Linked DNA regions of Homo sapiens. The protein of the gene in region 2 interacts with the protein of the main gene of each other region in a biochemical or structural test. Each region holds a gene or a part of one and is shown on either strand. Other genes may lie near its edges.

What was found. The genes of interacting proteins can lie anywhere in the genome.
Region 1: the proteins of VCP (region 2) and NGLY1 form a complex in vitro, tested with the Homo sapiens proteins (2 studies listed by BioGRID).

What each region holds. Positions count from the first base shown.
Region 1 is NC_000003.12:25,721,444-25,724,443, forward strand, and holds part of NGLY1 (peptide-N(4)-(N-acetyl-beta-glucosaminyl)asparagine amidase), read right to left. Parts: intron 1,457-3,000; coding exon of another isoform or gene 1,292-1,456; exon of another isoform or gene 1,234-1,291; intron 1-1,233. UniProt on the Homo sapiens protein: Specifically deglycosylates the denatured form of N-linked glycoproteins in the cytoplasm and assists their proteasome-mediated degradation. Cleaves the beta-aspartyl-glucosamine (GlcNAc) of the glycan and the amide side chain of Asn, converting Asn to Asp.
Region 2 is NC_000009.12:35,055,626-35,059,125, reverse strand, and holds the end of VCP (transitional endoplasmic reticulum ATPase), read left to right. Parts: coding exon 1-62; intron 63-1,595; coding exon 1,596-1,750; intron 1,751-1,903; coding exon 1,904-2,009; 3' UTR 2,010-3,062; downstream 3,063-3,500. UniProt on the Homo sapiens protein: Necessary for the fragmentation of Golgi stacks during mitosis and for their reassembly after mitosis. Involved in the formation of the transitional endoplasmic reticulum (tER).

The sequences.
Region 1 (3,000 bases), on a different chromosome or scaffold from region 2:
TATTAGCTTTAAAAATCCTCCACAATTAGGCTGGGCACGGTGGCTCACGCCTGTAATCCCAGCACTTTGGGAGGCTGAGGCAGGTGGATCACGAGGTCAGGAGATCGAAACCATCCTAACACAGTGAAACCCTGCCTCTACTAAAAATACAAAATATTAGCTGGGCGTGGTGGCAGGCGCCTGTAGTCCCAGCTATTCAGGAGGCTGAGGCAGGAGAATGGTGTGAACCCGGGGGGCGGAGCTTGCAGTGAGCCGAGACTGCGCCATTGCACTCCAGCCTGGGCGACAGAGCAAGACTCCATCTCAAAAAAAAAAAAAAAAAAAAAAAAAAGAAAAGAAAAAATCCTCCACAATTTCATCCCACCTTGAATTGCCAATGCTCCTTTTTATTTTTTTATACTATACTCCTTTATACTGCCCATACTCTGACCTATCTTCATCAAATCATAAGCTCTCTGGGGGCACAGTTTCTGGATTCATAAAAGCATTTAGTGCCGGGCACAGTCATTCACACCGGTAATCCCAGCACTTTGGGAGGCTGAGGCAGTCGGATCACTTGAGGTTAGGTGTTCAAGACCAGCCTAGCCAACATGGTGGAACCCCATCTCTACTAAAAATACCAAAATTAGCCGGGCATGTTAGTGCACACTTGTAATCCCAGCTACTCGGGAGGCTGATACATGAATATTGCTTGAACTAGGGAGGCAGAGGTTGCAGTGAGCGGGATGGTGCCACTGCACTCCAGCCCGGGTGACAGAGCGAGACTCTGTCTAAAAAAAAAAATAAAAATAAAAACATTTAGTAAATATTATTAAAGATCTGTATACACACATATATATATATATATATTCATGTTAGACTTGATCTTTTTAGAAACATCTAACTCATACTCTAGCTCAGGGGCAAATAGTTGAAAGTACCATATAAAACACATCTGCCATGGAATATCCTATTATATGTACTATTCTGTATTCTGGTCTTTACTCATATCAAGTAAAAAAATCAATCGCCAATAGTATTCTAATCACCATCTATTTGACAACCAACCTATAGCTATTTTTCTTCCAGGTATGCCCATTAATTTAATCTGAAAATTTTTAGAATCAGTGAGTTAGAGATTATGTAACAACTGAACAATCACTCTCCAAAGAAAATGTTCTTAAACTACTCAGAGTAGATATGTATAGCCAACTGTTATTTGTTGTTGACAAACCTAGATGTGGAACTGTCAATTGCTCCACTCAAGTTTGGACAACGCCACTATAACATCCTCTGGTGTTCATATATGTTCCTACTGCATGCTCCTCTTACAGCCGCTTGTAAGGAGGATGTGGGACTCAGGACTCCACCAGTGTTCCCCGGGAGTCATTAGTTTCACCCATCCTAAACTATTAGGCATCTGGGTTACACACAGGTTAACTGCTCCTTTAAAGGAATGGCTAGCAAAGGGGGATATCTGGGAAAGAAGAGCCAAACAGAGAGGTTACTGGAAGAAAGGTGAATTAAAAGAACTAAAAGACTTAAGGAAAGTAATCTTAAGACATAAACATTAACAGATATACTCAAATTTATCTCTCAATATGCACTTCTATATCTTGTATATTTTCAGAGCTCACTAGATTCAAATGTCCCTCAAAAGTGTGGGTATAAAATATGATAGGCTGAAATTACGTTAACTTCAAATCTAGCTTACTCCAATAACTGCCTTAATTATATTGTGTGGGTCTGGGTCAGAACTGTGGTTTTAACTGTTTAAGAGAAGGTTTATAGTAGCTGTTGAACATGTCTGACAGCATTTATTAAAGCCTTAAAATTTTCAGTCCTAAAGGCATCATCAGCTTTTAAGACTCTAGAAAGTTAAAGAATAAGATAGAGTTCATGATTTAATACTTAAATGTTTAAACATTCAAACATACTATGAGCAAAATAAAAAAGGTCTCTTATGTTAAAGAACAGTATATGGAGATAAAACACCCTATTTATACAGAAAATTCCTATCATCTTTTTTTGCACAATATATTCTGTCAAAGACTCATTTTTAGAGGTGGTAGAAAGTTACCAAGAATATGTATACTCAGTTTAGTAAATTAAAATGTACCACAACAATAGAATTTATAAAAAACCTCCAACTCTGATCCCACTATGTATAATATGAACACAATCAGTAACTATAATTTATTTAAAAGGAAAAAAAAAAGCAAACATTCACTTGTTTAGTGTAGAGAAAAAAAATTTTTTTTACAACTGTTGATTGTTCCTAACATCGTGAGTTATTTGATAGACATATTTTTGCCTGTTGGCTTTAAAAAATTTTTTTTAAATTTATTGTGTGCATTCTGTAAGCTCGGTTTTGTAATGTGTAGGTCTCTAAAAGGTGAGTGTTGCTATCCTACTTTAGCAGGAGTGCTAGTAAAGTCAGAAATCATGGAGGTTTTCTCCTGTATTCTATATATACCACCCAACCCCTCCTCCCACCAGTGACCCATCCTTGCTCCTTGTTGTAAGCACATATGAGCATATACACCCTTTGCGTGAGAACAAGACCTGTGTGTCTACGGTTTAGGCATAAGCCATACTATTCACAATATATAAAAATAGAACTTGTCTTTAGGTTGTGGCTGTAACCACTATTTTCAGGACTGAGAACAATTTGCATGTTGGCTTTATGTAACTAATATTCTACAGAAGATTTTGCTCAAAGATTTTTTGATTACTACATGTCAGGCTGCTATGGCTCCCTAGAGGTTCAGTTTGGACTATATTGTTTGAAGCTCTTCTTTAATACACTCTTAAAATTATTGTTCTACTGAGGCTGCTAAGATTCACTCAAGTTCAGTTCACCATACAGCAAGCACCCTGAAGTCCGTCATTCCCACAGATACCCAGCAAAGCAGCTGTATTTCAAGGAATCTCAAATTGTTGCTGGTAAACCGGTACTTGCAATGAGTCTTGTTTTTGGTTATTCCATTTTATGTTGAAAATCAAACATGAATCCACTTG
Region 2 (3,500 bases):
GTGAATCCATCGAGAGTGAGATTAGGCGAGAACGAGAGAGGCAGACAAACCCATCAGCCATGGTGAGTCTGCATCCTTTCCCCAGATGTGCCAATCATGGAGAGCCAGGCAGCAGCCACCACCATGCCCTGGAGTTGAGAGTAGAAGCTGTTGGAAAGATCATCTAACTGAGAAGAATTTTAATAGGGCATCAAAGATAAAGAATGCTGAGGTGAATCCATTCAATTTGGAATAAGGCCGAGAAGAGATGGTCAGGCTCCATTCTCAGTCTGAACCAAGCTCCATGAGGGAAATCAAAGTATGAGAGTGCAGCAAACACAGCAAGGTTTTTTTTGTTTTTTGTTTTTTGTTTTTTTTTTGAGACGAAGTCTCACTCTGTTGCCCAGACTGGAGTGCAGTGGCACGATCTTGGCTCACTGCAACTTCTGCCTCCCAGGTTCAAGCGATTCTCCTGCCTCAGCCTCCCGAGTAGCTGGGACTACAGGCACATGCCACCATGTCCGGCTAGTTTTTTGTATTTTTTTTTTAGTAGAAACGTGGTTTCACCACGTTAGCCAGGATGGTCTCGATCTCCTGACCTTGTGATGTGCCCACCTCGGCCTCCCAAAGTGCTGGGATTACAGGCGTGAACCACAGAGCAAGGTTTTGAGCTGAGATGAGACTCATATACTTATCCCTGATGGTTGGGGAAGGGATAGGGTCCACAGACCTCCCAAAATGAAAAGGCAAATTCATGTGTTTGTAAGTTCCATAAAGGTAAGATCTCTGTCATCTCACTTGTTTTCCACTATGTCTTGTGTTACCCTTAATTAATTCATTAAGTTCCAAACATGGGACTTAATGAGCAAATAAATGGCTTTCTTTCCCTTTTGAAGGGTCTGTGACATCCCTTCTCTCTCCCATAAAAGCTTAACAACTACTGATGAACTAATCCTAGGAGGTAGTCACATAAGTCACAGAAATTGGCCTCTCAATGGAAGAGATAGGTTTTGAGCTGGGCTGTGAAGAGAGTAGAATTTGAATAAAGGGAATAAGCAGCCCAAATAATGTGCTCTAGTAGTAGGATTGCAATCATTGGGAAACCCTGGGTAGATTTAAGAGTATATATGTCACTGGAAGTGAGACCGCTAGGTAGGATGTAATCCAAATGTGGTAAGCACTGAAAGCCATTGGCATTTCCTTTTAAAGTATTAAGGTTTATTAAGGTATGATATAAATACAATAAAATTCACTCTTTCTATATACCATTTCCATGCTTTATGACAAGTGTGTGTAAGTTCTATAACTACTACCACAGTTGAGACTTAAAATTTCTACTATCTCAAAAAGTTTCCTTAGCCACTTCAGTCAACATCTCCCCTCCTTAAGCCCCATCACTGATGTGATTTCTGTCCCTACAGTTTTCCCTTTTCCAGAGTGCATTGACAAGTTTTTAAGCAGAGCAGTGACTCAATTTTAGGAAGCATGGCCTAGCATCTTACCTCAGGTTGGATTGGAAGGGCAAGGAGACCAATAAACTGCAGTAATGGGAGGCCTGGGATGAAATCCAGGCTGGGCTTTAACTAGCCCTAGTGATCTGTGTTTACCAACTATAGGAGGTAGAAGAGGATGATCCAGTGCCTGAGATCCGTCGAGATCACTTTGAAGAAGCCATGCGCTTTGCGCGCCGTTCTGTCAGTGACAATGACATTCGGAAGTATGAGATGTTTGCCCAGACCCTTCAGCAGAGTCGGGGCTTTGGCAGCTTCAGGTAAGTTGGTTGGGAGCATTAGACAGTGCTTAAGTTACTTTGGGGACCTACACCAAAAGGGATGGGAGTCCTAAGGAAGCTAGAGGGGTAGTTGTGGAAATCTTACACAGGCCCTGTCCTAACCCTCTTTTTTGGCTTTGCTCTTGTACACAGATTCCCTTCAGGGAACCAGGGTGGAGCTGGCCCCAGTCAGGGCAGTGGAGGCGGCACAGGTGGCAGTGTATACACAGAAGACAATGATGATGACCTGTATGGCTAAGTGGTGGTGGCCAGCGTGCAGTGAGCTGGCCTGCCTGGACCTTGTTCCCTGGGGGTGGGGGCGCTTGCCCAGGAGAGGGACCAGGGGTGCGCCCACAGCCTGCTCCATTCTCCAGTCTGAACAGTTCAGCTACAGTCTGACTCTGGACAGGGGGTTTCTGTTGCAAAAATACAAAACAAAAGCGATAAAATAAAAGCGATTTTCATTTGGTAGGCGGAGAGTGAATTACCAACAGGGAATTGGGCCTTGGGCCTATGCCATTTCTGTTGTAGTTTGGGGCAGTGCAGGGGACCTGTGTGGGGTGTGAACCAAGGCACTACTGCCACCTGCCACAGTAAAGCATCTGCACTTGACTCAATGCTGCCCGAGCCCTCCCTTCCCCCTATCCAACCTGGGTAGGTGGGTAGGGGCCACAGTTGCTGGATGTTTATATAGAGAGTAGGTTGATTTATTTTACATGCTTTTGAGTTAATGTTGGAAAACTAATCACAAGCAGTTTCTAAACCAAAAAATGACATGTTGTAAAAGGACAATAAACGTTGGGTCAAAATGGAGCCTGAGTCCTGGGCCCTGTGCCTGCTTCTTTTCCTGGGAACAGCCTTGGGCTACCCACCACTCCCAAGGCATTCTTCCAAATGTGAAATCCTGGAAGTAAGATTGCACCTTCTTCCTCTCCTGATCAACATCGGTATGATGTCTCCTGTTGCCTCACCCTTTGTCTGCAGTATCACTGGATAGGACTGGTGGAAAGGGAGCAGCCTGACAGAGCTCCAAATGTGGAGAATATGGCATCCCTCCACCTATATTTGATGTGGACGGTAAGGCTAGGCCTGCAGGATCCCTTATCCTGACCAAAGACTGTGTTGGGGTGCCATTTGAAAATCGCAGGGTTGCAAAAGAATACAATCTTACTTGCAGGTGGATATTCTCTATACTCTCTTTTAATGCATCTAAAAATCCCAAACATCCCCTGGTTGGTGATCACTTACAGTTGTGTCCACCTTTATTTTATGTACTTTGATTAAAAAAAAAAAACTTTTTGTTAATATAAAATTTTAGTATTGAATTTTTTTTTTTTCCAAACAGAAAATAGACTATCCTCTTCAACAGTAATCACTTAGTGCTTCTAGGGTCAGTACAGTGATGCCTTACCCAGAGAGAGAGTAGTGCAGAGAAAATAAATTACTAAATTAAATATATGTTGATTGGCTTTGGGACATAATCTCAAAAGACAGTCCTGAACACCGTAATTTTGAATAAAATACTGTAATCTCCAAAGATCAAAATCCCTAAAGTCTAAAATTCTGAAAATCACAATCCCAAAAGGTCAAAATCCCAAAATACAATTCTGGAAGAAATACTAAACATTCTTCGAAAATTTACTTACATTTTTAAAAGCGTATTTATTTGAGAAACAACACAACAGAACGTTTCATAGGCCACTACACGATAAAATAGGGAATAGTAACATTTTTGCAAGATAAACACTCA